Regions from separate parts of the Homo sapiens genome. Here regions 1, 2, 3, 4, 6 and 7 are each reported to be linked to region 5. The links are microRNA targets in miRTarBase. Many come from high-throughput screens and were not tested one by one. Region 5 holds a microRNA gene; each other region holds the end of a gene's coding sequence.

Region 1 (4,081 bases), not on the chromosome of region 5:
CCATCTCAGAATAACCAAGATCTTTATCTTTGCTGGGGTACTACCCCAAGGCAATTTTTTTTGGATACCATTTTTTAACCTTGACATAGTGGATACATCATTTCTTCCTCCATATATATTTTTCCTCCATTAAAAAAGAAACAAAAACTTTTTTATACCTGGGTTTTGCTCTTGATTTAGCTCTCAAGGTGGTCCTTGTTTACTTTTTAATAATCACTGCTCTTCATCTGTCAATATTTAATTGGTATGATTTATCCCAAAATTGTTTATAGAAAGTCAGTTTTTTGTTTTCAACTCTAGATCTTTGTTCCTGTTCCTCGAGCCTGGTGGTCACCCTCTGGCTTCTGCTAGGCAATCTGTTTCCTCTGCTGGCTGGATTTCTTCTGTGTATATGGCACTAGGAATGGAAAAGTGGATCTTCAAGATATTCTTTTATGTTATGTTCTTGTGAACAAAGCACAAAGTTTGAGTGAGTGCCAACCTATGCAGATGGTAGAAGTGGCATTCCTGGCTTTGGCTTGGAAGAATTGACGACCATCAGACCTTGAAGCAGAACTTCACAGCAGCCTGTCCTCATCAGCAACCCAACCACCTTCATCAGCAACCCAACCACCTTCATCAGCAACCCAACCACCTCGTCAGCAACCCAACCACCTCGTCAGCAACCCAACCACCTCGTCAGCAACCCAGCCACCTTCATCAGCAACCCAACCACCTCATCAGCAACCCAGCCACCTTCATCAGCAACCCAACCACCTCATCAGCAAACCAACCACTTTCATCTGCAACCCAACCACTTTCATCAGCAACTCAACACCTTCATCTGCAACCCAACCACCTTCATCAGCAAACCAACCACCTTCTTCAGCAACCCAACCACCTCATCTTGGAGAAGGAGAAGGAACTGCAAGCCACCAAGTCTTCATTTTTCAGGGTTTGTAATCTTCCCAAAGTTTTCCTTTGAAAATAGGATAATGGGTGGAATTTTCAGAGTGATTACATACCTCAACATTTTTATTAACATACAACAATGGGAAAGTTCATCATCCATATACTGCAGTCACTTAAACAACAGCCAATTATTGCAAGATTAGAATTGGAGATCTTGTCCTCAAAAGTATAAATTGTCCTTTGAGTTATAGAAAATAATGGAATTGGGATTTCTACATATCATTATTATACCTATTTTAAATTTAATGGCAGCCAGGCATGGTTCCAGCTACTTGGGAGGCTGAGGCAGGAGGATCGCTTGAGCCCAGGAGTTCAAGGCTGCAGTGAGCTATGATTGCACCACTGTATTCCAGCCTGCACGATAGAGTTAGACCCTGTATCTTAAAAAAAAAAAAATTAATGGCTGGTATATAGTAAACTTAATTCACTGTTCCCATTGTTCTAAAGAATTTTTTTAAATAATGTTTCATTAAATCTTATGATTTAACCGTGCTTGCCCTTTTTGCCAGCTATGTGGCAGTTTACGGCAGAACTGCTGTCAGTGTGCTGGTAGCCCTCTATTCATCCCTCCTCAGAGCCCAGCTTCCAGAACTGCTATCACTGTGCTGGTAGCCCTCTGTATTCATCCCTCTTCAGAGCTCAGCTTCTGGTTGTATTCTCCATGAGTTTAATAATGACATGAAAAAATGTGGAAGCCGAGAGAGTAAAATACTCTGCCCTGTAAAAACATGGAAGACATGCAAACAGAAAAAAAATAATTGTATTGTTTTAGATAATACTTAAGACAACTGTGAAACAACAAAAACACAACTATTCCTTTGTGACCGATGAAGATAAAAAGAAATTCTGGTAAAGACGGGTATGCAGTTTTTTAAAATGGGTTAAGAAATTGTTGCAGAAGAATTTCTAACATCTGAAAATGGTTTTATGTTTAAGAAGGATGGTCTGAATTGTGTACTAATAGCAAGGTATAAGTTTGGTGTAGAGCCTATCCAGTAGCGTCCACTGTACCACTTTTAAGTAAGACTCAGTCCACAGAAGCTGGAAGATTGCCTTCGCTTTAAATATCCTTTACCTTCTGCATTTGACACTCCTCCTGTTACTACATAGATTCCGGTCCCCAGAAGCAATTTTACACTGGTACTAGAGCTTACCAGCCCCATTTAGTAATTTTTAATGGCTAGATGAGGTTTAACAAGAATATGAAAAGAAAAAAGAAAAAATATATTCATGAATGATAGGCGATGCCCATTCTTTCTCTCAAGCTAATGAAGTCCTATGGCATTCTAACCACAACCCTCGGACAGACTCCTCCTATTCCTCCATGGCATTGTAACCACAACCCTCGGACAGACTCCTCCTATTCCTCCATGGCATTGTAACCACAACCCTCGGACAGACTCCTCCTACTCCTCCATGGCATTGTAACCACAACCCTCGGACAGACTCCTCCTACTCCTCCATGGCATTGTAACCACAACCCTCGGACAGACTCCTCCTACTCCTCCATGGCATTGTAACCACAACCCTCGGACAGACTCCTCCTATTCCTCCATGGCATTGTAACCACAACCCTCGGACAGACTCCTCCTATTCCTCCATGGCATTGTAACCACAACCCTCGGACAGACTCCTCCTATTCCTCCATGGCATTGTAACCACAACCCTCGGACAGACTCCTATTCCTCCATGGCATTGTAACCACAACCCTCGGACAGACTCCTCCTATTCCTCCATGGCATTGTAACCACAACCCTCGGACAGACTCCTTCTGTTCCTCCTTTCCTCGTCCTTCCCTGCTTTTCGTCCATTCAGCATATAGCTATTCAGTACTCCATTGAAGAAATTATGCTAAGTGAGCAAAGCAACATAATTACTAAGAATTAATTCTGATTATTTGGCACTAGAGCCAACAGCAACCCCAGCACAGAGGAAAGTCGCTTTTTTTTCAAATGCATAAATTTAAAGTATGTATTTGCATGCAGTTTTAAATGGGAGGTATTTGTCATTGTGAAAAGCTGGGAATCTCAAACATAGTCAACTTAACTAAAAAGAAGCTAATACAGGTTGAGCATTCCTAATCCAAAAATCCAGAATCCAAATTGCTCCAAAATCTGAAACTTTCTGAATGCTGACCTGATACTACAAGTAGAAAATTCCACATACAAGTACTTAACACAAACTTTGTTTCATGCACAAACTACTAAAAATATTGTATAAAATTACCTTCAGGCAGTGTGTGTAGTTATATATGAAACATGAATTTCATGTTTAGACTTGGGTCCATGCCCAAGATACCTCATTAGGTATCTGTAAATATCCGAAATCCAAAAAAAAGTCTGAAATCTGAAACACTTCTGGTCCCAAGCATTTCAGTAAGTGATGCTCAACCTGCGTAATGGTCTGCGGGCCAGTGCTCATTTTCTGCCTATGTTGTACATACTTTAAATTGTGTAAATTAAAAGTCAAAGCAAAGAGTCTATTTTTAAAGAAACTTACAATAATCTAAACATATACTTCTTATGATTATGAATCATCCTGCAAAGCTGAATGAAGAATTTTACCAAAAATACAATGAATTAATCATATATTTGAGAGTCACAGTGATAGGTTCGACTATATTTTGACTGTTGTGTAGTGGCACCGTTTAGGTAGTATTGTTTCTGAGCATGGTGCTTTTTATACTTGAAATATATTTTTGCTTTATTTTTTATTGATATAATTATATTTGCACTAATGGCTTTCTGAAGAAAATATTATAGATGACATTTTTTGTATATATATTTATTAAGCTTGGGAACCTGGTCGCCCAGTGTTTTCTCTGGACAAATGTGAAACTGGATAAAGTATGGATAAAGTCTTGAGTTCCTCAGGGTAACTGTGTTGATGTCTCCCGTCCTCTTCAGTAAGGCTTGAATATGATTTTACTCATCATTGATTCTGCATAGTGTACCCAGCAAGACTTAGAAGGACACTGAACCTGTCAGAGATTTTAAGAGGCACATTTTAGTCACTTTGAATATGGTAGTGGTGGGCGCGGTGACTGAAGCCTGTAATCTCAGCACTTCGGGAGGCCAAGGCAAGCAGATCACGAGATCAGGAGTTTGAGGTTACAGTGAGCTGATCGCAC
Region 2 (4,000 bases), not on the chromosome of region 5:
ACTAGAGGGAGAGAGAACACAGGCTGAGTCATGGTGGCTAGGAGGTGAGATGGACCTTCTCTGCCTATTTGTTTTTCTGAGAAGAGGTATGCATAAGTATTAAGCTAAAGAAGGTTTGCCCATGGATCACCTGAGTTTCTACACTATATGAAACCCTGGTTTATATTAAAGGTGTATTTTGGCTCTGGGATATTAATACTAGCCAAAGCATACCCAAGAGTTGTTAAGAAACTATTTGTTTGGCAAATAGTTTTTTTAAAGGTCAAGTTGGTACAAGGCACATCAGGCACAGTAGAGACAAAGAAGTATAAGGCTTTTTTTTTTTTTATTCTTAGGATTTTATTTTTCATTTATTTTAAGTAAAGAGGTATGTGTGTCATTTTTTATGACGTTTTTTGCTTTTGTTTTGGACATGCATAGATGGGAGTACATGCATTCACCCTCAGAGAATTCCAAAGAAGCTGAAATTCTGGAAGTTCTACGCCATCCAAGGGACTGGGTGCGTTGATGCAGGCAGAATGGCTGTGCAGGGGTTTGGAGGGCACACGATGTGTGCTCCCCATGCCACTGGTCGGCACTTTGCCACTGTGTGGCAGTTACCCGTGCCTTAGTCTTCTCCACTCTGCACCCTACCTCGTGGGCAGATGATAACATGTTTTGGATGCTGTCAGTGATGAATGGTGAGATGGCAGATTGTCAGAGTCAATTGATTAAACCTCATTTATACTTCTAGTGTCATTTTATATGACTAGTTTACAAAATAGGACATTGAGTTTCCAAGTATTGAGATAAGGGAATATAAATAGTATTATATGTATCAGGAAATCTCTCATCTTGTTTTTGTTTCATGTATTTTTTAAAGTTTTCATTTGTGCCACAAAAATCTGTCGTGGAATATATTTTATTTTCATTAATTCAGTGAAGTTGAGACTTCATAGTAATTTTAGAATGCAACTTGAAGGTAAAAATTTTACTTTGTCAATACTGAAGTCTCTGCTGTAATCCTTATATATCTTTCTCCAGAGAACATAATATTGTCAAATAGATACACATTTTTCTAATAGGTATTTAGAAGCACTTGAAATAATCTCTGCATGTGTTACAATTCAGTTATTTCTGTAGTTTGTAAACTCTAAAGTGACATTACTATTATTTTAGAGATGTCTAAGTTGTAATTTTGATTTTTGTGGAACCATTGTTTGTTAATGTTGGGATTCTCTGCACTTTTGAATGTGAAAGCTTATATCCCTGAATTCTGATACTTAAGAGTTTTCTATTTCAGACATCTCTGTGTGGAAGTTGAGACTAAGAATAATCCTAGGGATGTCATGAATTTAGGCAATGTTTCTCATTTGGAAAATGAAATGAGAAATAATTTCCTTCTTTAAAGCAAGTATATATAGTATGAGAAACTTGGAGGCATTTCATACACACGTTTCTTAGGAAAATGGACACATTGAAAATGTCCTCTTTTTTATATTAGAGATTCTGCAGCTCTTTGCTCTTAAGAGCAAATCACAACAGGATTCTTAATGTATGATTTCTTTGTTCATATATTATGAATGTATTATTTTATTTGCTTCGTAATAAAGTTTATAAGGAAGAGCATCTCATACATATCATTATCGTGGAACACGTTGAATGTTTGTGATTCTGTGTGGCCTTTTTGGGGCTGGAAAATGTATGAATTCTTCAACTGTCTTACAAGAGATCTGCTAATAAATTTTATTATTAAATAAGACTAAGAAATATTTATATTTTTTGTTGCCAGGATAATATAGGAAAACGCATATATTTCTTAGTACAGTTGATCCTTGAACAACATTAGGGCTAGGGGCCCCAACTCCTCCTTACTGCATGCAGTTTCAAATCCTTGTATAACTTTTGACTCTCCCAAAACTTAATCACTAATAGCCTCCTGTTGACTGGTAGCCTGACCAATAACATAGTCAATTCGCACATGTTTTATGTTATATGTATTATATACTCTTCTTACAAGCTAAAGAAATGAAAATGTTATTAAGGAAATCGTAAGAAAGAAGATATATTTGCTATTCATTAGGTGGAAGTGAATCATCGTAAAGGTCTTCATCCTCATTGTTTTCATGTTGGGTAGGCTTAGTGGGAGTAGTAAGAGGAAGAGTAGGTCTTGCTCTCTCAAGGGTGGCAGAGGTGGAAGAAAATCTGCGAAGAAGCAAAACTCTTCAAACCTGTGTTGTTCAAGGCTCAGCTATGCTAATGCCATAGTTCCTCATTCCTAGGTATTTTACTCAAGAAAAATACAAGTTTTGTACTCAATTTTCATAGCAGCTTTATTCAATAGTTGAAAATTAGAAACAACCCAAATGGCTAACAGCAGGTGAGCAGATAAACAACTTGTGATATATGCGTATATTAAAATACTAAGCAATGAAAAGGAATAACTATTGCTAATGACAGTAACATGGGTGAACATCAGAAACATTATGCCAAGTGAAAGCCACACATAAAAGTACTTACTATATGACTACATTATAGGAAAACCTAGAAAAAGCAAAGCTTTAATGACAGAAAGCAGATCAATGGATGGCAGGGGTTAGGGGATGCAGATTTGTGAAAGGGGACAAAAGAGTATTTTGAGGTGATTTAAATGTTTTACATCTTGATTGTGATGGTTACTAGACTGTATATACATTTATCAAAATTCACTGAACTTAAAATGGAATTTTATTGTATATGTGAATAATACTTCAATAAATCTAATACTAGGAAAAATATAGGCATATAGGAACAAATGTTCAGATCAACCTCAGTTTAGCTTTTAAAAAATAGAAAATCACTACATAGTGATGATATAATGCTAAAATGCTAGCCTATTTAGTTGTGTTTAAAGCTGTGGCGGGTAAATGAAGATAAAATTTTTCTGTGCATTTGTTTTCAGTTCTTCAATAACCACGTATTTCTACTATGGATTAGACTATGTCTGAAAAGAATTGCATAACTACTGGAAAACAGATTATCCTACTGTTATTCAAAGTGAATTTCTCTTTCAATTTCTTACTGGTGTTAATTCAGTCTACCTGAAGACCACAGTGCACCTCCAGATGGCCTGAACACCTAACTGTCTTATGCATGCAGGTTCATGGTAATAAAGGGTGTCTGGAGGGGAGAAATGTCAATTCTCTGGAGCAAATTTTTAACCACTATTTTCTGTTCATCACTGTACTCTGCTGACCCTCCTAGTCAGCAGAGTATTTGAGATAAGTGCTTCTGCACGCTAAGGAGTACAAGATTTGAAAAGCCAAATGTTTCTTTATGACTTATCCTTCCATGTGTCTTTTGCTGTTACAATATTTAGAGACAGGAATCTTCTGCAGGTTTTTGACTTGCATGTCTGTACATAGGTGAGGATGACTCAAAGGCTCAGCTCATCTTGGACTGCAGGCTGCATTGCCTATGGGTGGCTCAGAGCACGAATTCCATGGAAAAAGGCAAAGGCAGTATGGTGGTTTTCTGTTCTAACCACTGAGGTTATGTAGTGTCACTTTCTTCACATTCCACTGGACTCCTGACAAGTCTGTCATTAAGGACAGTTCCAGATTCGAGTGGTAGGGAATTAGATCCCAGTCATCTTCAAAACCTCCACACAGCCTTCCACACTCAAAACCACGAAATAGATTGGACTCAACCCTCCACATTGCCCTAATTAGTTCCTGTTGAGTCCCCCTTTGAAATGGCTCCTGGTTTCCTTCCTCTGCCCTTTGCCACCACCCTACTTTAGTCTCACATACTTTCTCATCTGAACTTTTGCAATGCTCTCCCTGCCTCTGGGCACTCTGACCTTTCCCTCTCTTCAGAATTATTTTCCTAGGTCCCATTATCACCACCCTGCTGAAATAGTCAAAGAATCTCCTCTCCAGACAGAATTCTAAAGTCAGTCTGACATTCAAGCAATCCACCATTTAACTCCTACCTCGTGTTTCAGGCTTATCTTCTACATTTCTCTGTGCACTTCAGTCTC
Region 3 (4,081 bases), not on the chromosome of region 5:
ACTCTTGTAATCCTAGCACTTTGGGAGGTTGAGGTGGGTGGATCACCTAAGGTCACGAGTTCAAGACCAGCCTGGCCAACATGGTGAAACCCCATCTCTACTAAAAACACAAAAATTAGCCAGACATGGTGGCAGGCACCTGTAATTCCAGCTACTTGGGAGGCTAAGGCAGAATCGCTTGAACCTGGGAGGCGGAGGTTGTAGTGAGCTGAGATTGTGCCACTGCACTCCAGCCTGGGCAACAGAGCAAGACTTCATTTCAAAAAAAAGTGAAATTATGGTCATCTCTTTGATGATGTGGAACCTGAAAGGACTATGAAATTATACTCATGGGTATAAAAGATAATATGAACAGTAGATAAAAATCACATTCAACTGGGAAAACAAACATATTCAAGTAGGAGGAGTGGGGCAAGTAATAAAACAGAGGGACTCAGAGGTTTAAGGGATAGAGAATTACTTAGGACAAATATGTGCAAGCCCAGGTAAGAGAGGTGAGTCTTTGAAAATTCTGATTCAAGAGCTGAACAATTGGCTGCTTTCCAGAGAACAACAGAATGACAATACAAAATTGATTTAATGAGATGAGGTTAAAGGAGTTAATTATAACGAACTTGGAAAAATAATTATTAAGATGCTAGATGGGACTCTCCCAAGATTTGATAGCTCAAAAGCACTTTGAAGTCTTGATGATTAAAGTGTACTGCACAGGTACACAGACAGGATGCCCACCAAGACAGGAAATGGAGTGTTTACCAAGACATAACACATGATGCAATTAAATGGAAATAAATCCAATAGAGCTGAATGTCAAGGAAAACTTTTTTTTTCTCCTAAATTTAATAAATAAGTCAATTATATATTTAGTCTTCCCAGGAGTAGGAGCGAATAGTGAAATATTTGTTGCTAAGAAGGTTTAAAATTAGGTGTAGGGTAGGAATAAACATTTCCTGGGTTGGATTAGACTAAAAAAACCTACGATTTTTCCCTGTCATGTCCATTTACATAATTCTGATACTACCCTAGATGTTGCCAGAGTACGTGAGTGTTATTTACTATTACAGATGCATAGGTTTTTTTTATGGTTTTAACTCCTGGTTTGTGCAATTAATTGCTCTCTCTCCTAGATCCAGAGGTTTGCTATTAAAGTAGCATTAGCACTTTCCAGTGTGTGGCCTGTGGAAGGTGACCACTGTCCTAGACTGGCTCAGTTATCCCATTCCCTTGATGAGGCTGTCTTTTAAGCTCAATTGAAGGTAGTAACAACAATCCTAACTTTATGAGGATTCTCTTTATGTGAGTAGAAATGTGTAGATTCTGGAACAGTGCCTAGCAGGTTGCAGATACTTACTAGAAGTTTTCTGAGTGAATGAAAAGTCGAAAATGAATGTATCCTTCCAAGCATTAATGTGCTTTGCATCAAGCAACATTAGTGTAAAATTCTGCTTTTTCTCTTTTTTCTTTTCAATGTAGGAAAGGTGATTTCTAATGGATGCCACACGTTGTAGATCTCTGACCTCTATTTTCTCGCTGGTGGTACATCTACTGCACTTACACATATGTTGTTCCTTTTCATTTCCAGAAGATTCACTTAGTTCCTTGATACAGAATCAGAGCTTAAGACTGTCATTTCACAAGAGCATTGAGCACAATGAAACTGTGAATCTTTGAAGCTTATGATTATGCTTCACATTTTTGTAAACTTCAAATAACCTTGGAAAAATTTCCAGATTGGGTGTAGAGTTATTTAATTATAAAGAACTATTTTAGGTATAGTCAATGATTTTCAATTATTATGTCAATTACATTCGTTGTATTCACTTACGGACTTTATGGTAGGTTACAAAAATATATACTTTGAAAAGAAATATACTCTTTATGCAAAGGAAGCTATGCCATCAACAAACTTGACCTCTAATTCCCAAGTTTATTACAGAAAAATTTGTAGTGTGAAAAAGGCAAACATCTCCAGCTCATCTTCTCAGGTATCTATGAAGATTCCGTACAAACTCCTTTCAAATTTTTCCCAGGAATGCTGTCGGAACTGGACCTTGATGAAGGAAATACTTTCTGACTCATTGGAATTTGTTATAGTCAAAGTAAGTAAGGCACAAATATTGAAGATAAACTTGGTACAGTATGTAGTGCCTTTTGTTATTAAATGCAACTTTGGGTGATTACTTGACATTTTGACTTCATTGATTTACTAAAAGAAGTTTTGAAAATTTTACTGAAGACCACTGTTTTTGTTTTTGCTATTGTTTTTAAATTTACTATATATGATGTTTGTAGTCATTTCTATGAAAATGTTGGCATTAAGCCTTTTAATGAGGGGCACAATCTGCTACCATAATATTCTTTTAATGGGAAATCAAGTAGGAATGGATAATTGTGACTTTTCTAGGAATGGAGACCACTGAAAATGAGACAGAAACTAGTGTGTATAAATACATTACAGTATGGGTGTGGATGTTCACACTCCACACCATGAATGCAATGAAAGGATCTCTAATCACTGTAGATAGTGCTTTGCATGTTATGTTTCCAGTCTGGGTATAGCTGGCATCTTATTAACAAAAGGAATTCATCACTTCTGTTTGGAATCATTCTCTATCAGAACCCTCAACCCTGCATCCTACCATCCTGGGCTTGCACTGCAAGTTACATGATCCCTGAGCTGACCACTTTGGCTTGAATCCCTGGAAGGAGAAAGGAGAGAGAGAGCAACTAGTTCAGACACAAGCATCTAGTTCAGCTTTGGTACTGCTTAATTCTTTTTTCTCCCTCCCTCTAATCCTTTTTTTGACTGTCACATTTGTCCTAATAGCAAGTTAGGACATGTCTGTTGGCTCTCGAGATTCATGGGACAGCAATGCAGCAAATCTAGCCATAGTATTTGCTCTCTCTAGCCCTGCCCTTTTTCCTGTCCAGTGAATATCAAAACAGGTAGAAAACATGGCCTGAAGGATTGTCTCTGCCACCACCTCCATATGCATTTTACCAGTAGTCCTGTCATACAGGTTGAATTAGTTTTATGTAGAACAAGTCATGAACACTTTAGTGTGGAAAAATAGTATTATATAAAGCTTAATATTAAACATTATGAAAAATACATATTTACAGAAGAAACTACAAAATACAACTATGTACAATAATATCTGTTACCTTTAAATTATATAAAATTTTAAACATTCTCCAGATTAATAAATTATACATAGTATCAACAGAAATAGCTGGCACCTCTGTAGGGCATGAAGCAAGTTTTTAAAAACAAATCACACAGTGAATAATTTTTATCCAGGAGCTCTTCAGGTACATTCTCAATGCCTTGAATAGACTGGATCTGAAAGGAAGAACACTGTAATTAGAGACTGCCGCAGGGTGTGTCATAATTGTTTACGCTGTTTATGAAAATTACCAATGTGAAAGACCAGCAGAAACATATAGCTCAACCTAGTTTAAGATGAGACCATTCCTATTGGGACCAGGTAATTCCATTTAGAAAGACAGATTATTAGACTTGGAAGGGACTAGTGATTCTAGCCCATCGCCTCTGTTTTTATGGATGAAGCCATAGGCCCAGAGAGGCAGAGTAACTTACTCAGGGTTACACAGCTTGTTACAGCTAGTTAGTTCGAGAGTTCGGACCTGAATCTTAGCCTTCAGCTACGTGGTGGTTATCCTTTTCTATACCATAGTTAGCTTCTTTCAGGAGTGCTCAAGATTACTCTAAAAAAAGATTCTTAAGTCAAAACAAGACAAAGGAACCTCCAAGATCCCTCAGAACTTGCTCATACTGAAGCCTCTTAAGGAATCTCCCATGCAAAAACCTTAATTTACTATACAGATCAATTAGGGTGTAATTTGTAATTATTCATAATACAAAATAATTATCTGATTTACAAAGGACTCCTCTAAATAGTAGCTCTTTATTTGTGCTTTACAGATGCTAACTCATTAACATACTGGCTAGGCTGGGTGGTAGAGAGAACTAAGTAAAAGGTTAGGAGACACTACCTGTTGAAGATCATTTAGAATGGAGATAAGAGGGTATGAAATAATGTTTGTCAAAGAAAGATTA
Region 4 (4,081 bases), not on the chromosome of region 5:
CAGACTCAGGATTTGAATCTGGTTTTGCCATTCACTTGTATAACTGGACAAATCAGTTTCTTTGGATGAGCCTTAATCATCTTGAAGTGGGGATAATTCTAATAACCTCATGGAATTACCACTGGATTAAATGAAATTTGTAAAGCCATACATAGCTCACTGTCTGGCGCACAGTAAGTGCTTAGGAAGTAAGGTTTTAAAACTGCCACTTAATGTGATTTATATTTATCTCTTTCAGGTGAATGAACTTCAGAATTTGTCAAGTGCAGAAGTTGTTGTCCCTCGTGACCAGACACCTGATGAGAATGACCAAGTGGTTGTCAAAATAACTGGTCACTTCTATGCTTGCCAGGCAAGTGGGCTCTAAAATAAGCTATTGTATCTTTCTCACGTGGAAGCAATTCTCCCACAGGTGCTCCTACCTGATAGAATTAGTTAAGGTTGTTTGATGCTTAAGACTTTTCATCTCCCTTTTAGCGGGTGATTTCAGAGACTACTAGCAAACTGACTAGTATGTATCTTTAATCATCAAATGGATTTCTATTTGAAATTGTTGAAATGAAGGAGTACAATAACTTTTAGTAGCTTTTGATCAAGTGGAATTTCAAAGCTCTGTCCTTTTCTAGGTTGCCCAGAGAAAAATTCAGGAAATTCTGACTCAGGTAAAGCAGCACCAACAACAGAAGGCTCTGCAAAGTGGACCACCTCAGTCAAGACGGAAGTAAAGGCTCAGGAAACAGCCCACCACAGAGGCAGATGCCAAACCAAAGACAGATTGCTTAACCAACAGATGGGCGCTGACCCCCTATCCAGAATCACATGCACAAGTTTTTACCTAGCCAGTTGTTTCTGAGGACCAGGCAACTTTTGAACTCCTGTCTCTGTGAGAATGTATACTTTATGCTCTCTGAAATGTATGACACCCAGCTTTAAAACAAACAAACAAACAAACAAAAAAAGGGTGGGGGAGGGAGGGAAAGAGAAGAGCTCTGCACTTCCCTTTGTTGTAGTCTCACAGTATAACAGATATTCTAATTCTTCTTAATATTCCCCCATAATGCCAGAAATTGGCTTAATGATGCTTTCACTAAATTCATCAAATAGATTGCTCCTAAATCCAATTGTTAAAATTGGATCAGAATAATTATCACAGGAACTTAAATGTTAAGCCATTAGCATAGAAAAACTGTTCTCAGTTTTATTTTTACCTAACACTAACATGAGTAACCTAAGGGAAGTGCTGAATGGTGTTGGCAGGGGTATTAAACGTGCATTTTTACTCAACTACCTCAGGTATTCAGTAATACAATGAAAAGCAAAATTGTTCCTTTTTTTTGAAAATTTTATATACTTTATAATGATAGAAGTCCAACCGTTTTTTAAAAAATAAATTTAAAATTTAACAGCAATCAGCTAACAGGCAAATTAAGATTTTTACTTCTGGCTGGTGACAGTAAAGCTGGAAAATTAATTTCAGGGTTTTTTGAGGCTTTTGACACAGTTATTAGTTAAATCAAATGTTCAAAAATACGGAGCAGTGCCTAGTATCTGGAGAGCAGCACTACCATTTATTCTTTCATTTATAGTTGGGAAAGTTTTTGACGGTACTAACAAAGTGGTCGCAGGAGATTTTGGAACGGCTGGTTTAAATGGCTTCAGGAGACTTCAGTTTTTTGTTTAGCTACATGATTGAATGCATAATAAATGCTTTGTGCTTCTGACTATCAATACCTAAAGAAAGTGCATCAGTGAAGAGATGCAAGACTTTCAACTGACTGGCAAAAAGCAAGCTTTAGCTTGTCTTATAGGATGCTTAGTTTGCCACTACACTTCAGACCAATGGGACAGTCATAGATGGTGTGACAGTGTTTAAACGCAACAAAAGGCTACATTTCCATGGGGCCAGCACTGTCATGAGCCTCACTAAGCTATTTTGAAGATTTTTAAGCACTGATAAATTAAAAAAAAAAAATTAGACTCCACCTTAAGTAGTAAAGTATAACAGGATTTCTGTATACTGTGCAATCAGTTCTTTGAAAAAAAAGTCAAAAGATAGAGAATACAAGAAAAGTTTTTGGGATATAATTTGAATGACTGTGAAAACATATGACCTTTGATAACGAACTCATTTGCTCACTCCTTGACAGCAAAGCCCAGTACGTACAATTGTGTTGGGTGTGGGTGGTCTCCAAGGCCACGCTGCTCTCTGAATTGATTTTTTGAGTTTTGTTTGTAAGATGATCACAGTCATGTTACACTGATCTAAAGGACATATATATAACCCTTTAAAAAAAAAATCACTGCCTCATTCTTATTTCAAGATGAATTTCTATACAGACTAGATGTTTTTCTGAAGATCAATTAGACATTTTGAAAATGATTTAAAGTGTTTTCCTTAATGTTCTCTGAAAACAAGTTTCTTTTGTAGTTTTAACCAAAAAAGTGCCCTTTTTGTCACTGGATTCTCCTAGCATTCATGATTTTTTTTTCATACAATGAATTAAAATTGCTAAAATCATGGACTGGCTTTCTGGTTGGATTTCAGGTAAGATGTGTTTAAGGCCAGAGCTTTTCTCAGTATTTGATTTTTTTCCCCAATATTTGATTTTTTAAAAATATACACATAGGTGCTGCATTTATATCTGCTGGTTTAAATTCTGTCATATTTCACTTCTAGCCTTTTAGTATGGCAAATCATATTTTACTTTTACTTAAGCATTTGTAATTTGGAGTATCTGGTACTAGCTAAGAAATAATTCTATAATTGAGTTTTGTACTCACCATATATGGATCATTCCTCATGTATAATGTGCCCCAAATGCAGCTTCATTTTCCAGATACCTTGACGCAGAATAAATTTTTTCATCATTTAGGTGCAGCTTGTTGTGTAGTATGTTTTATTTTTGGTTTTCAATTGAATGGGAATGTTCTGAATTTTTTTTCAAACTCTACGCAGATTTCTGTTATACCATGTCCAGCCATGGTACTTAATGTGAACCTTGATAATACTCTTGCATATGAACTAAGAACTAGAGCGTTCAGAGTTTTTCCTAACAAACACTTTGTTTACTTTCTTGTGTTACTGGAGTATTCTGGAAGGGTTACAGAAGTCCTCCTAGAAGAATATTATCACCTCAAAGTATAAAAATAAGACCAGTGGGCTATGTTTTATATTATTTTTTAAAATTTTTGCCATTCCATTAAACAAACAGGGTTAAGATTTACATTTAAGCTAAATTAAATTAATAAAAATCTGAGCAGAGAAGTCAAGCACAGGAGCCAGTGCTAACTCCAGGAAATTCTGATGACATTTCCAGGATAAAGGCAGCGTGTCATAAGTTTTGGGTAGAATGTACTGATTTTTGGTTGCAGGTATAGCTCACTTATCGACAGTCTCTGCATGCCAGTTAGCAGGAGTGCCCATGAGGTACACAAGCCTTGTCCTAAGAGCAGCCTAACCAAGGAGACGGACTTTAGGAGCTGTATTTTCCAATAAGTGACTCAATCCAAATCTGAAATGACTAACGCAGTGCATAAAATATTTTATTCACATTTTAACTCCACTGGAGTCACAGATGAAGTATCATCTTCTATTCCAAGAATGAAGTCTTCAGGTACTGTCTCAGGTGCTATCTGAGCTAACTGGTCATCATAAGAACGTAGGGTCCATAATTTCTCTAATTCATAGATTTCTCTGGTTTCTGGAAGCATCAAATGAATCACCATGCTGCCTGTCAGGGACAGATAAGAGATACAATGAAGGAATAGTTCATTTGCTTTTATTCTTACCTTACAACACACACTGGCTAACTCTAGGAATAAAGCAGTGGTTCTCAAGTGTGGTTCCCAGATTAGCATCACTGTGGACTCCATCCCAGCAAAAATACCACAGAAGTGATGCTATGCCTTTCTCAGTGTACCTACAGGAGGCATATGTCAATATATAACATTGCTGGTGATAGTAACTTTATCAAAGAGACTAATGGTGTCAGGATTCTCTTCGGTGACAATTCTCCATGGGTAACACACTTCTGCACATCTTTTGTGCAAAAACACTGACTGCCTTTTGTTTTGACTATCC
Region 5 (4,081 bases):
GATGGTGAAACCCCATCTCTACTAAAAATACAAAAAATTAGCCAGGCCTGGTGGCGGGCGCCTGTAATCCCAGCTACTCGGGAGGCTGAGGCAGAGAATTGCTTGAACCCAGGAGGCGGAGCTTTCAGTGAGCCGAGATCGTGCCACTGCACTCCAGTCTGGGCAACAGAGCAAGACTCTGTCTCAAAAAAAAAACAAAAAATTTCACAATTAGAAGCACACCGATTAATTTTGCCTATTACTAGAGGCTTGGGGGAGTGTGGTGATTTTGTTTTTTCTTTAATACTCTGAATTTTTACAAATATAACATAGCCGGGCGCGGTGGCTCACGCCTGTAATCCCAGCACTTCAGGAGGCCAAGGCAGGTGGATCACGAAGTCAGGAGATCGAGACCATCCTGGCTAACACGGTGAAACCCCATCTCTACTAAAAAAAAAAAATACAAAAATTAGCCCAGCGTGGTGGTGGGTGCCTGTAGTCCCAGCTACTCGGGAGACTGAGGCAGGAGAATGGCATGAACCGGGGAGGCAGAGCTTGCAGTAAGCCAAGATCACGCCACTGGCACTCCAGCCTGGGCGACAGAGGAGACTCCGTCTCAAAAAAAAAATACAACATAATTGAATATTTATCAGAATATGCCACCCACATTTCTTTACTCTCTATATTGAGTTTTACACCTCCCTGACACAAGTATGTCTGGATAGCTGTTTCAGATAGAGAGCCTTGCCCGGGAGGCCTCCACTGGAGTACTAAAAGACCTAATGCATGGCCTCATCACCTTAATGCTGGATTCTCGGATTGAAGATCTTGAGGAAGGACAACAGGTCATCCGCTCTGTGAACCTCTTGGTGGTGAAGGTTCTGGAGAAGTCAGACCAGACCAACATCCTGAGGTATATCTGTACTCTCAGCCAATAGAGCCTGGGGCATCCTCGCTTTTGTTTACACTTAGAAACCATAATGTCCGTAAGTCAACTTCCTAGGCAACCTAACAATCATAATCAACTTCCTAGGCACACTTAAAGTTATAGCTACATCAGTTATAACTATATCAGTTAAAACTTTAAGTGTGCCTAGGAAGTTGATTTATTACTCTTCTTCATCATGGACCAAAGGTATTTTAGCCTGAGACCATAGCTAAAACTAGTAAATACTTAGTTAGCCAGCCAATATCATGCATTTTCTATAATAGGACTGTAAAGTTTGTCAGTTACATTTTTCTTGTACATTTCAGGTACATTTTATTCTTTCTCAGCTACCAATGACAATGAAAAATAGAGTCACAAACCTTACACTTACCAAGTGGTGACTTAAAAGGCTTAAACAATGTTTATTTTCTTAACTGAATGTCAGGTAGTCCAGGACAATTCCTGATCCATGACCTCTCAGTTTATTAGATGAATAGAGTAATCTCACTTGCCCTTTCAACTGCTGATTCTAATTGGAATGCAGGTTTGAAACTTAATGCTGTTGTGTTGGGTTTTTCTTCCAGTGCCCTACTTGTTTTGCTCCAAGACAGCCTGCTAGCAACAGCCAGTTCTCCCAAATTCTCAGAGCTTGTTATGAAGGTGAAGTTGAAATGATTTGATCTCTTTTCTTTCAAAGATGCAATCACTTTGTTAAAAGTATGGGGAAAGAGGAATTGGAGCTAAGAAAGACATAGGCTCAAATCAACCAAGTCACACCTGAAAATATATTTTTCGTAATAAAAATATTAATAAATTTTTAAAAATTTAGCCAGGTGCAGTGGCATGCACCTATAGTAGCAGCTACTCAGGAGGCTGAGTTGAGGAGATTACTTGAACCCAGAAGTGAGCTTGATCATACCACTACACTCCAGCCTTGGCAACAGTGAGACCCCATCTCTTAAAAAATATATATATGGTTTTTTATATATATGTGTATTATATATATGTATATATGTATTATATATGTATATCTTAATATGTTATATATGTATATAATACACGTGTGTGTGTGTGTGTGTGTGTGTGTGTGTGTGTGTGTGTATATATATATATATATATATATATATATATATGAATTGGTCTTCAGTTTTTCCCTTCCTACAATTTATATTCTAAGTTCAGGCCTAAACAGTTCGTGGCCTCAAACAGTGAAAGGGAGGAAATATTTTGTAAATATTTTACTAATTCTCTGAGGATCAAAAGGAAAGAAGTTTGAAACAGATTTCATTTATTTTGGGGAAAAAGATATCTACAGCCCTATGATATTTGGTCTCTTTTGTGAAAGAGACCAAATGAACATATTTATAACATTGTAATACTGTTATTACACTGAATTAGTATCAGATATTTTGTCCCCTTGCATTAGATTTGGTTAAGCAACATGAACTACTTTACTCTCAGGAACGAAGGAAACCCAAGAGAGAATTTCTACCAGGTTAAATGATGGCCCCTAGCTCTGGGGAGTGGGAAGGAGTAGAGATGGATGATTAGATGAATGACTGGACACACTTCAGCTGGTGTCATGGTAGAAGTGATTAAAAATTTTCATGTTTTAGCAGCTGAACTTGAAAGATATGATGTGCCACATTTATAGCCCTGGCCATCTTTTAGAAGTGAGCTCAAAGCTTAGGGAAGATGAATGGTGACAAATTATCCTCATTCTTCAGTCACTCCTAACTCTTTTATTCTTTTTTCAATAGTGTCTCTGGAGAATGGTTCGACTGTTGCCTGATACCATCAATAGCATTAACCTAGACAGAATTCTTCTGGATATCCACATTTTCATGAAGGTCTTCCCCAAAGAGAAACTGAAGCAATGCAAAAGTGAATTTCCCATAAGGACCCTAAAGACCCTGCTACACACCTTATGCAAATTAAAAGGGCCCAAGGTGAGTAAGAATCGCAACTGGTCTCTGAGGGAGCTTGAGAGAAAATCATGGAAATGGCAGTGCTATCAGTCATGCATGTGTCTCCCTCAGATCCTGGACCACCTAACGATGATCGACAACAAAAACGAGTCTGAGCTGGAGGCCCATCTCTGCCGGATGATGAAGCACAGTATGGACCAGACTGGGAGCAAGTCTGATAAGGAAACAGAAAAGGGAGCATCTCGAATAGTGAGTGGCCTGACTTGAAAGATTGAGGGACATGAGGCTACACCGGAAGTGATCTTATCTAAGGTGTAGGTCACCAGGATATGCTTTCCGAAGGTCCAAGGTGAAGGCTCATGGACTGGTTGAATCAGTCTCCTGCTGTGGTGCAGTAACCATTTCCACCTTGAAATTTTAAAATCTAAACTAAGTATAACCATGTGTTTTTTGGTCCCCAAGAAAGATGCCTAAGGCATTGGTCACCAGATAAATAGCTAGTTCTGCTTAACATGGAAAGAATATGTCAGTTCCTTCTCCATCAAGTTGAGGTGGAAATCTGAGACTGGAGGCATTCAGTAACACAGAATGTTAGTGCTTCTGCTGCAAGACCTGCATCATCGGTGCATCTGTTATCTGTAGGAACATACCAATAAGGCCCAGATTTTGAGATATTTTCTGTTCATATCCAACCATCAGTTCCTAATTAATAACTCAAGTCTAACCAATTCTTCCTATGTCTTTCAACTTTTCAGGATGAAAAATCATCAAAGGCCAAAGTGAATGATTTCTTAGCTGAGATTTTTAAGAAGATTGGCTCTAAAGAAAACACTAAAGAGGTGAGAGTGAAAGGGTTAAGCAGAATAGGGGTCTGCTTTATGGTAAAGGGACACTAACATTCATCCCCACCTCTTCCCTTTTCCTGTTCACCAGGGACTAGCAGAGTTATATGAATATAAGAAGAAATACTCAGATGCTGACATTGAACCATTTCTGAAAAATTCCTCACAGTTCTTCCAGAGCTATGTCGAAAGAGGCCTTCGGGTGATTGAGATGGAGAGGGAGGGCAAAGGTCGTATTTCCACTTCAACAGGTATGGTTTCCTGTTATAGCTCCAGGAATAAGCTCAAAATAGCTCCTAGCACAGGAACCTGAAGTTTTGGTTAGTTTAAATTCATATCCATGAACCTCAATACTTAATGGTCACCAAATGGCCTTCCCATTGCTATATCCAGTGGTCAATTCT
Region 6 (4,081 bases), not on the chromosome of region 5:
GCACCAACCCAATTGTGAACAAGCTAGGAGTAAAAGACGTAAATGAATTGGTCACCCCAATGCAGGGGATACAGACTTGTTTTAATATAAAAAAGAAGTGGCCTTAACCGTGCAGGGCTTGCAGGCCTTTGTAGGCATGGGAGCATGCTGTGATCCCTGGTTCTGTGCTAAACACTCAAAAGGGCTCTCTGACTCAAGTGGAGGTGATAAACCTTTTCAATAGTAACAGGAGAGAGTGTGATATCAAAGTGCCAGAAGTCCTCACGGACCAACATTTAGCACAGACATTCAAACTGCTGAAAGAACCAAACAGAACTCAACTGAAAAAAACAGACCTTTTAAGAAAAGCAATAGATCTTAATTTGGTGGCAAGATCCCTGGTTTACCTTTTGAAGTCAAAATGTTCAATACATCACCCGAGCTTGACTTTTGAGCACTTGGCAAGATTGTTTTTTGCCACTTGACACAAGTATGATGTCCAGCTATGCAAAATGACTGTTTGATCTGCCTTTTCAGTGTATTTGTGTGGCGATGTCTGTAAAATGCCAGAAGCCTCTTATGTTATTGCTGCTGCTGCTACCAGCCAGCAACTGCAGAGGCCATGCTGAGGTGCCTCCTTGCCACCAGCCGTTGGGAAATGCCTACCATGCTGCCCCGGATGCACAAGCTCAAAACGCTGCAGAAGTTACACAACTGCTCCCATAATCTGGACTCTCCAAAACCGTGATGCCACGAAGGAAGGTCAAGTTTTAAAATGTTAAAGACTGCTTGCCTCTGTTCCTGAGACTAAACAGTATACATACTAACTACATTGACAAAGAAATCCTATCTGATAATGTAGCCCGCTGACGAATTTTGAAGCCTCGGTTACCCTAACCAATATGTAGCTTTTAATTTGCATCAAAACTTTTACAAAGATGTTTTGCTATTGTTTCTATATACTTCAAGAATGTTCATTTTTACAAATAAGTTGAACAAGACAGCCTAAGTTAGATGCACCGAAGTACTAGAAATATCGCTAGCCTCTGTTCTCCAGTTTAGCTTTCAAAACCAAATGAGCCATGTATAAAGGAGTTGAGAAACTTAATTTTTAAATGTTTCATTTGCAGAGTTTTATATCCATTAAGTGCCTTTGAAAGTTTCCAGTTGTGTGGGCTGCTGTCTCACCTCCCACCAATTTCTCCTTTCTCCATATGGTGCTAAAACCTCAAAGCTGAGGAGGGCTGCAGGACCCTTAGCAGATTCAGTGTGTCACCCTTGTCCTGTGTTCACGCCAAGGCTTCCTAAATGAAAGACATCGGTTACCTGCTTATGGGAAGGTGAGCAGCAAAGGAATTGAAGTTCGGGACAGGGTAGAATTATGGGTTTTCATTGTGTTTCATGCCAAACCCACAAAATCCAAAATAGAATTCAAGTTAAACAAACTTCTACTACAAAATGGAAGGGGAAAAAGGCTCAGGAAGGTCTATGAGAATGAGCTGACTTATCTCGTTAAATCTTAAGATAAATGAGGGTAACCCAAGGCTGCACCTTGGTGTACCACCCTGAGTGGAGTTGAGGTGACTTCATTTGATTGCTTCAGGCGAACTATATAGGTCAAGTCCAGATTATAAAAAAATTATCTGCAGAACAAATTGTAAACCCAAGGAATAGCTGGTAAATCAAAATTATAAAGTGAGTTAGAGTTCCTTGGAGTTGGTTGTATGACGGAATATGACTTGGACAATCTTTACCAGAAGCCATCCGTAAGCCCCTCAGTCACACTTTCCATGTAGCTGACCAGTGACTACAGGATGTGGCTGACAGTGCTCACTGAAAGGAGAGTTGGTGCGGGACTGGTGGTTCTGAGCACATAGACGCCTATTAGTCCTTCTGGTCAGTGAACGAAAATTCTAGACCTACAGTTACTGGCTACTTGCATTTGTCAGTTTAGAGAAAAGGTAAAATGAGGCATTTTCAATTGTAGAATAGACTAACATTTACCACAGAAGTGCTTCAGCATTCTAAATGGATTAGATCACTCATTAAGCTATTTTTATATGCCAATTTACTAATGCCTTACATCAATCCACTAATAGGTTGTTGGGCCCGCAGTAGAGTCCCTATGCAGTCCCAATTCTGTTTTCTGTAACCATGTGACTGGTGATGCAGAGTGATAACCATGTCTGCCTATCTTGTACTAGACTCTTCATGCTGATCGGATCTTGCATTGAAATAACCATGTGGAAGAACAATGAATCGATTAATGATGACATGTACAACCATATTTAAAGAGCAATAGTGTCCGTGTGTCATGAAAAACTTATTTGTAAACGTTTATATGGTATGATTTTGATTTTATGTATGTTCATAAATCCTGCACTGTATGATATATGTGAGTTAAAACATTGGTGCATGAATTTATTTTCAAAGTATAAAACACATCACTTAAACATTTTATGTGTCAAATAAAATTTGATTATGTAAACACATTTGTTGACTTTTGTTTCCACAGTAAACAAACAAACAGCTGCACCATCAGCTGAAAAAAACCCTTCTAAAAGCACAAGCTACCATTCGCTGGTTGAAGCAGTTTACCCACTGTGTGCATTTTTAATCTGCTGCAATTTCATGAAATGAAAATACCAAAGCATATTTTAAGTCTATAAGCTTTATTGATACTTTGCTTTTACAGTTCACAATGCATTCCACAGATTTAGTTCAGTACAGCTTAAACCACAATGGTATAAATCTTCATTTTGTAATTAATAATTTCTTGCATAACAATGTTTGATATTTGCAAACAAACAACATTTTTGGAAGCATTAGATTCAGTCCATAGATTCTGTGACAAAATTAACTACAGTCAGTCTGTGCAATGAAATTGATGTTGGAGTTCTATGTGTGTGGCATTTCATGTTGAAAACAGATGGTAGTGCTCCTAGAAATATTTCTTCTTCTAGCTTATGTGCTTTGGAACTACACATGTATAACCAATGACTGACTCTGAAATATCAAGCACTGTGGGGTGGCTGGAAGGTAAAGGTCTAAGCTTTGTGAAACACTATACATATATAATCTATATTTACTTATATTGGCAATTAATATAACAGTAAAAGTCACAATACACCTAGAACATACCAGAAAAGCAAGCTTTGTCATTCCTGCTTTACCGGTATGATCTCGTCTAAACAAACATTTCATTTCAGAAAATCTGCATCAATCTACACGGACCATACACAGTGCACAAACTGAAAAGGGCTTTTTTTTTTTTTTTTCTAGCTCCACCATCTCTGCAACTTGCCAAGATGCGGCAAGACTATCTGCAACAAAGTAAAATATACAGGTTTTTTATTCCACCAGTGCCTCAGATAGATAGGAAAAAGATATGATTACGGTTTAAATCCATACATAGCAGCTTACAATACTTAAGATGATGAACACATGGCAGTCAAGACAGGTAATTTTTCCTCACAACAGTGCATGGCTAAAAATAAAGATCTAACAACGATCTGTGAAACTGCACTGCAACGTCAAGGTTCGTTCTTCCCTGACCCTCCCCCGTATAATCAAATGAATATCCCCTTTAAAGATGAACTCCTACTAATTATTTTGGGCGTTTTCATTCAGCTTTGCGCTTCAATCCAGGGATTTTTGCTTGGATTCTGAAAATGAAAAAGTCAATGTAAATATCAGTTTTGTTTGCTGCTGCTTAAAATACCATCTTCCAAGAACTACTTGTATGTTATTCAGCTAATACAATAAATGAAATCCTTAAAGCTGCCTAATTCTAAGCTATAATTTTGCCACCTTGGCCTCATGAATTAGATTTAAACAAAGCCTTAAACACATAATAAACCCAGAAACGAATGGTCCAAATGTTAGAAAAACAATCTTTTGGCAACTCTGAAGTCACACTTAAGGTCTGATAGAGATTTGTTACTCATTATGCCTGCAATATGAAAATACTGTTCTCACAATCCAGCACACCTTATCCTAGTAAAAACACTGCAGATTTTAAATACTTACTTAGCCATAGCATCTTTAACATTCTTATTTGCAAGTCCTAGATAATGATCTATCTGTGCCTGAAAGAGAGGTA
Region 7 (4,081 bases), not on the chromosome of region 5:
GGGGAACCTCTCCTTCTTTTGGTAAGAAAAGCAATTATGTCAATTTAGAAGACAGTATTTTTAAAAGTAGGTATTTAAAATTTATTCACTTTTAGGGGACTTAACATTTTATTATTTATCTTATTTTTAAGAGCCAAATATTTCCAAATTGCTTTAAAAAAAATTCAGCTATACATTTAGAACTTGATAGTACCCCTCAAAATTTTTAGGTTGTGTTTTCTCCTCCCAGCATCACAAAATAGCCACTTATTTCAAGTACTTCTGATATTGAATATAAGGCTTGATATGAAGAAGTATAGCCTATTATGATTGCTAATAATGCTAAAATGTTGCTCAGTTTGTCTAAGCCATTCACTCAGCTAATACTAATGTAGAAAATATATTTTAAAGTCTAATTACTAATACATAGCCAAAGGAAACCCATAAACTTGATAATCCATAAGGAAACAATAGTAAAAAAATGTTTTGGGGCAGTCTGCAAAACAGCAATTTTGTTTAGGAAAAGTGGACTTTGTTATGCTTTTCTGCATGGCCAAATTATACCAGAAGATAATTCCATAGAGATGCAGCAATCACCTTTTTTAAAGATTTCATTAAATGAAGATATTCTTGTTTTCTGTGGTAGTCTTTATTATTATTTTTTAGCTATTGATACATAGCATGGCAGCAAGATTACATCAGTAATGTAATATAATACAGCTTTTTTCATTGAAGCTTTGTACCTTACTATACTCTAGGCTATTTGGAGTGTTCCCCCACTTGCACTAAAGTACAACTATGATGTCTCTACTGCCTCTCCCAGTGAAATATAAAAATATTGCACTACATTACAGATATAGTTTACAAATGTCATTAGCAGCATTACTGAGCTTTCTATAATTGTGGTCTACAGAGTTAAATACTTTTAAAACATGAGTAGATTCTTATAAAACCAAAGTTTTGCATTATTTCAACAGCTCTTTCAAATGCATCAGTTTCAGCAACATGCTTGGGTATCATGAAAACTTCCATGGTTTAATCAATAAACACCAGCTACTTACAAGTAGTCCACCTTCCAGGTTATCAATGGTAAGTTATTTTTTATAAAGTGGTTACACACTGAGCAGATTGCCTCAAGTGTAAGTTATGGAACAATACTTTAGCTTTCAGGGAATTTGGTGTGTAAATTCTTCTATAGCAGTGTTCTTTTAAAATAAGATCACGTGGCCGGGCGTGGTGGCTCACGCCTGTAATCCCAGCACTTTGGGAGGCCGAGGCAGGTGGATCACGAGGTCAGGAGATCGAGACCATCCTGGCTAACATGGTGAAACCCCGTCTCTACTAAAAATACAAAAAATTAGCCGCGCCTGTACTCCCAGCTACTCCGGAGGCTGAGGCAGGAGAATGGCGTGAACCTGGGAGGCGGAGCTTGCAGTGAGCCGAGATCATGCCACTGCACTCCAGCCTGGGAGACAGCGAGACTCTGTCTCAAAAAAAAAAAAAAAAAAAAAAAAAAAAAAAAAAAAAAAAGACATCACGCTTAAATAAGTAATGAAGTATACTGAGATGTTTTTGTTATAAACTTGGCTAAGAAAGGTATTTAGTACCTGAAATTTTCGCTTACTAAAGTAACAAAAGGCATGAGACTTGGCTATTGATTTTTAAAGTGGAATAACTTTTCTCCCCTCAAAAATGTCTTTCTTACTCATATAAATAATGCCTTTTACTTGTATATCTTTTTACTGTTCAAAGCACTTTTGCAGTTATGCTATTGTTTCCCTCACAACAATACTGTGAGGGAGGTAAAGTATTATTATTCCCATTTTAGAGATGGGTCCTTTTGTAACTGCCTATGCTTACACAGTTCATTAATGGAAGGGCTTGAACTTAAACTCTTTTATGGAGTCCTGGAGTCTAGACCTGGGCCCCAGTCCTTAATATTACACCATGCTTTTTCCTGCCAGCAATAAAAGCTGCTCCATCTAGTTTTAAACTCATGTCAGTTTCACTATATAGCAATCATCATAGCAGTTACCTACAAAGGGACAAACATATACTTGTCTATTTTATAGGTATATAACAGACCGAAACCATTAAGGTACCCCAACAACAGTCGAGCTTACTTGTTTTCCCTCAGTCAAATGTTACTGGGACCCGTAAAATGGACCCAGTGTGAGTATATCTTCATTTTCAGAGAACTGGTCCCAATTCCTATGTATGAATACTATTTTTGTCATTCTTTTCTTAATGAATACTCACTACAGAAGTATTCAGAATGATCACCATTCCTTTACAACTGTAAGACGCCAAAGCAAAAAGTATATTTTGCATGATTCCTTTCCTTCACAGAATACTCCTACATGAAAATGTTTTTTCTAAAACAAAACCAGCCCAAACTAGTTATCAACACAGTCATTTTAAAAAGAGTCCTCCAAAACTTTAAATACCCTTTCACATGCTTTATTTCCTATGGGAGAACTGATGAGGAAAATTATCATAAATGTTTAAACTTTTAATTATAAAATTTAAATTTCCATTTAAAAGGAAAGCATCAATATTTTAAAAGATTATATTTCAAAATGCTATGTTACTGTTTTTCAGTAATTAAGTCTTGTTATCCTCTCTACAAAATTCTTGACCAACTGCAATCTACATTTATTTCCTATTACATTGTCTTTCAATGTAAGCTCTTCAAATTAATCACCATATTTTTACCATACAGCTGCACAAAAGCTTTAGAAAAAAATTTCACAGAAGCATCGAAAGCAAGCAATATATGTAAAAAATTTTTTTTTACTAAATCAGCATAACAGACTAAAGCTGCAGCATCTGCTTTCATGTTACATTTGGCAAAAACAAAACAAAAAGCACCCCCAAACCCCCAAAATAACAAAAATCTCAAGCAAGTAGAGACGATAAACTTCATAACACAAAAGAAAGATTCAAAACCTGTTCCCTCAGTGATTGCTGTTGTCAGTTTGGGCATGCAGCAAATTTGTTATAACCATGATGGAAATGAAAATATTTTAAGAATCTAGACAGTATTCTATTTAACACTAATTCAAAAACCAAGAGGAAGAAAAATAACACAAGGGGACACCATACATACATAAACATGAAAAGCTAGCTTACATAATTACATAATTAGAAAAGTTAAATAATTTAGTAAAAATAAATTCCCAGTATAAACCCAAAAAAGCATAGCTATAAATGCAATCCAAAACAACCAATTAGTAAGCTGGTCATGTTTTTACTGGAAAACAACCTTTCTCATTTTTGTTCTTACACAAGCAAGTAACTGGAGAAGCAGGCCAGAGTGCATACGAGGATTTAAACATGGTTGTATCTGTGGTACTTTAGATGCAACTTTACCCTGTTCATTTGAAAGCTTAAATAGACCTGTCTGCTACACAGACTCGGATGGGCCAAATAAGTCATCTGATATGCTGCTGAATGGCTGAGAGTCTATTAGTTGGCTTATTTCATTATCAAGGTCTTCTTCTGTATCATCTGTGTACTTGCTTATTTTTTTGGAGTGCTGGTCTAAAGACAGACTTTCTAAAGTTTCTATATCTTCAATGCCTGCTCTGTAGTGAATCATAAGAAGTGTTAGAGCTTGTAGCCTTTCACCTGATTTAGCTAAGGCAGCAGAAAGAAGTGATTTTTTCCTTGTATCAGTTGTCTCTTTTTCTTCTCTAACAAGGGAATTATTGTGTTCCAACTCCTGATCAATTTCATTCTGTAGCTTATCCAACATGAACTCTAGTTTCTGGATCCTTTCCTCTGTAGGCAAGCCCCTGTACAGATCACGACCAATTTCTTTAACTGCAATGAAAACACTGTCATCCAGACCACCCTCTTTTCTCACTAACTTTATTCCTGTGCTGTTTCCCCGTTTAGAAGGACTGTTTGGACCACAGACCTCCGTGTCACTGCCTTCGTTGTCTGACGTGTTGGGTGTGTGTTTTGGTGAAGGTTCTACGAGATCGGTTCCTGGTTCAGAAAGGCGAGTTTTAGAGACTTGACGCAAATTTAATAAACGAGAACTAGTATTGATAATATGCCTTGTCAAACCTGTTGTTTTATTGACTGACTTGCTAGC

The links. Region 5 holds the annotated microRNA hsa-miR-5582-3p (UAAAACUUUAAGUGUGCCUAGG, at 1,056-1,077, shown strand). A microRNA usually pairs through its seed, bases 2 to 8, with sites in the 3' UTR of a target mRNA and lowers its output. Matches are read on the target gene's strand: a 7mer-m8 pairs with bases 2 to 8, a 7mer-A1 pairs with bases 2 to 7 and ends in A, and an 8mer does both.
Region 1: miRTarBase lists LMLN as a target of hsa-miR-5582-3p. Seed matches in the 3' UTR shown: 7mer-m8 at 951-957 and 7mer-A1 at 2,935-2,941.
Region 2: miRTarBase lists CPOX as a target of hsa-miR-5582-3p. Seed matches in the 3' UTR shown: 7mer-m8 at 860-866.
Region 3: miRTarBase lists PTPRB as a target of hsa-miR-5582-3p. Seed matches in the 3' UTR shown: 7mer-m8 at 817-823.
Region 4: miRTarBase lists IGF2BP3 as a target of hsa-miR-5582-3p. Seed matches in the 3' UTR shown: 7mer-m8 at 826-832, 7mer-A1 at 1,195-1,201, 7mer-m8 at 1,593-1,599, 7mer-m8 at 2,069-2,075 and 7mer-A1 at 2,427-2,433.
Region 6: the mRNA of EML6 is a reported target of hsa-miR-5582-3p. Seed matches in the 3' UTR shown: 8mer at 745-752 and 7mer-A1 at 1,110-1,116.
Region 7: miRTarBase lists PDZD8 as a target of hsa-miR-5582-3p. Seed matches in the 3' UTR shown: 7mer-m8 at 2,413-2,419 and 7mer-m8 at 1,001-1,007.

The regions. Positions count from the first base shown.
Region 1 is chr3:198,038,267-198,042,347 of GRCh38, forward strand. LMLN (leishmanolysin like peptidase) reads left to right here. Exons shown (of 17, transcript NM_001136049.3): 17 at 301-4,081. The coding sequence ends at 401. LMLN-AS1 (LMLN antisense RNA 1) reads right to left here and starts at 1,201. Exons shown (of 4, transcript NR_046669.1): 1 at 1,183-1,201; 2 at 881-958; 3 at 482-592; 4 at 55-397.
Region 2 is chr3:98,577,191-98,581,190 of GRCh38, reverse strand. It overlaps CPOX (coproporphyrinogen oxidase), which reads left to right. Exons shown (of 7, transcript NM_000097.7): 7 at 421-1,745. The coding sequence ends at 508. Among named protein-coding and RNA genes, the nearest start is that of CPOX, 14 kb to the left of the region's middle.
Region 3 is chr12:70,518,169-70,522,249 of GRCh38, forward strand. PTPRB (protein tyrosine phosphatase receptor type B) reads right to left here. Exons shown (of 34, transcript NM_001109754.4): 34 at 1-3,343. The coding sequence ends at 3,321. PTPRB-AS1 (PTPRB antisense RNA 1) reads left to right here. Exons shown (of 9, transcript XR_001749196.2): 4 at 1-4,081. Among named protein-coding and RNA genes, the nearest start is that of PTPRB-AS1, 52 kb to the left of the region's middle.
Region 4 is chr7:23,309,006-23,313,086 of GRCh38, reverse strand. IGF2BP3 (insulin like growth factor 2 mRNA binding protein 3) reads left to right here. Exons shown (of 15, transcript NM_006547.3): 14 at 239-352; 15 at 627-2,878. The coding sequence ends at 725. It overlaps MALSU1 (mitochondrial assembly of ribosomal large subunit 1), which reads right to left. Exons shown (of 4, transcript NM_138446.2): 4 at 1,358-3,731. The coding sequence ends at 3,544. Among named protein-coding and RNA genes, the nearest start is that of MALSU1, 12 kb to the right of the region's middle.
Region 5 is chr11:46,750,121-46,754,201 of GRCh38, reverse strand. It overlaps MIR5582 (microRNA 5582), which reads left to right and starts at 1,010; the gene lies at 1,010-1,077. CKAP5 (cytoskeleton associated protein 5) reads left to right here. Exons shown (of 44, transcript NM_001008938.4): 37 at 705-892; 38 at 1,492-1,567; 39 at 2,668-2,856; 40 at 2,947-3,084; 41 at 3,591-3,674; 42 at 3,769-3,928.
Region 6 is chr2:54,969,555-54,973,635 of GRCh38, forward strand. It overlaps EML6 (EMAP like 6), which reads left to right. Exons shown (of 42, transcript NM_001039753.4): 42 at 517-2,471. The coding sequence ends at 541. RTN4 (reticulon 4) reads right to left here. Exons shown (of 9, transcript NM_020532.5): 8 at 4,009-4,067; 9 at 2,635-3,644. The coding sequence ends at 3,602. Among named protein-coding and RNA genes, the nearest start is that of RTN4, 79 kb to the right of the region's middle.
Region 7 is chr10:117,279,883-117,283,963 of GRCh38, forward strand. PDZD8 (PDZ domain containing 8) reads right to left here. Exons shown (of 5, transcript NM_173791.5): 5 at 1-4,081. The coding sequence ends at 3,386. Among named protein-coding and RNA genes, the nearest start is that of SLC18A2-AS1, 40 kb to the left of the region's middle.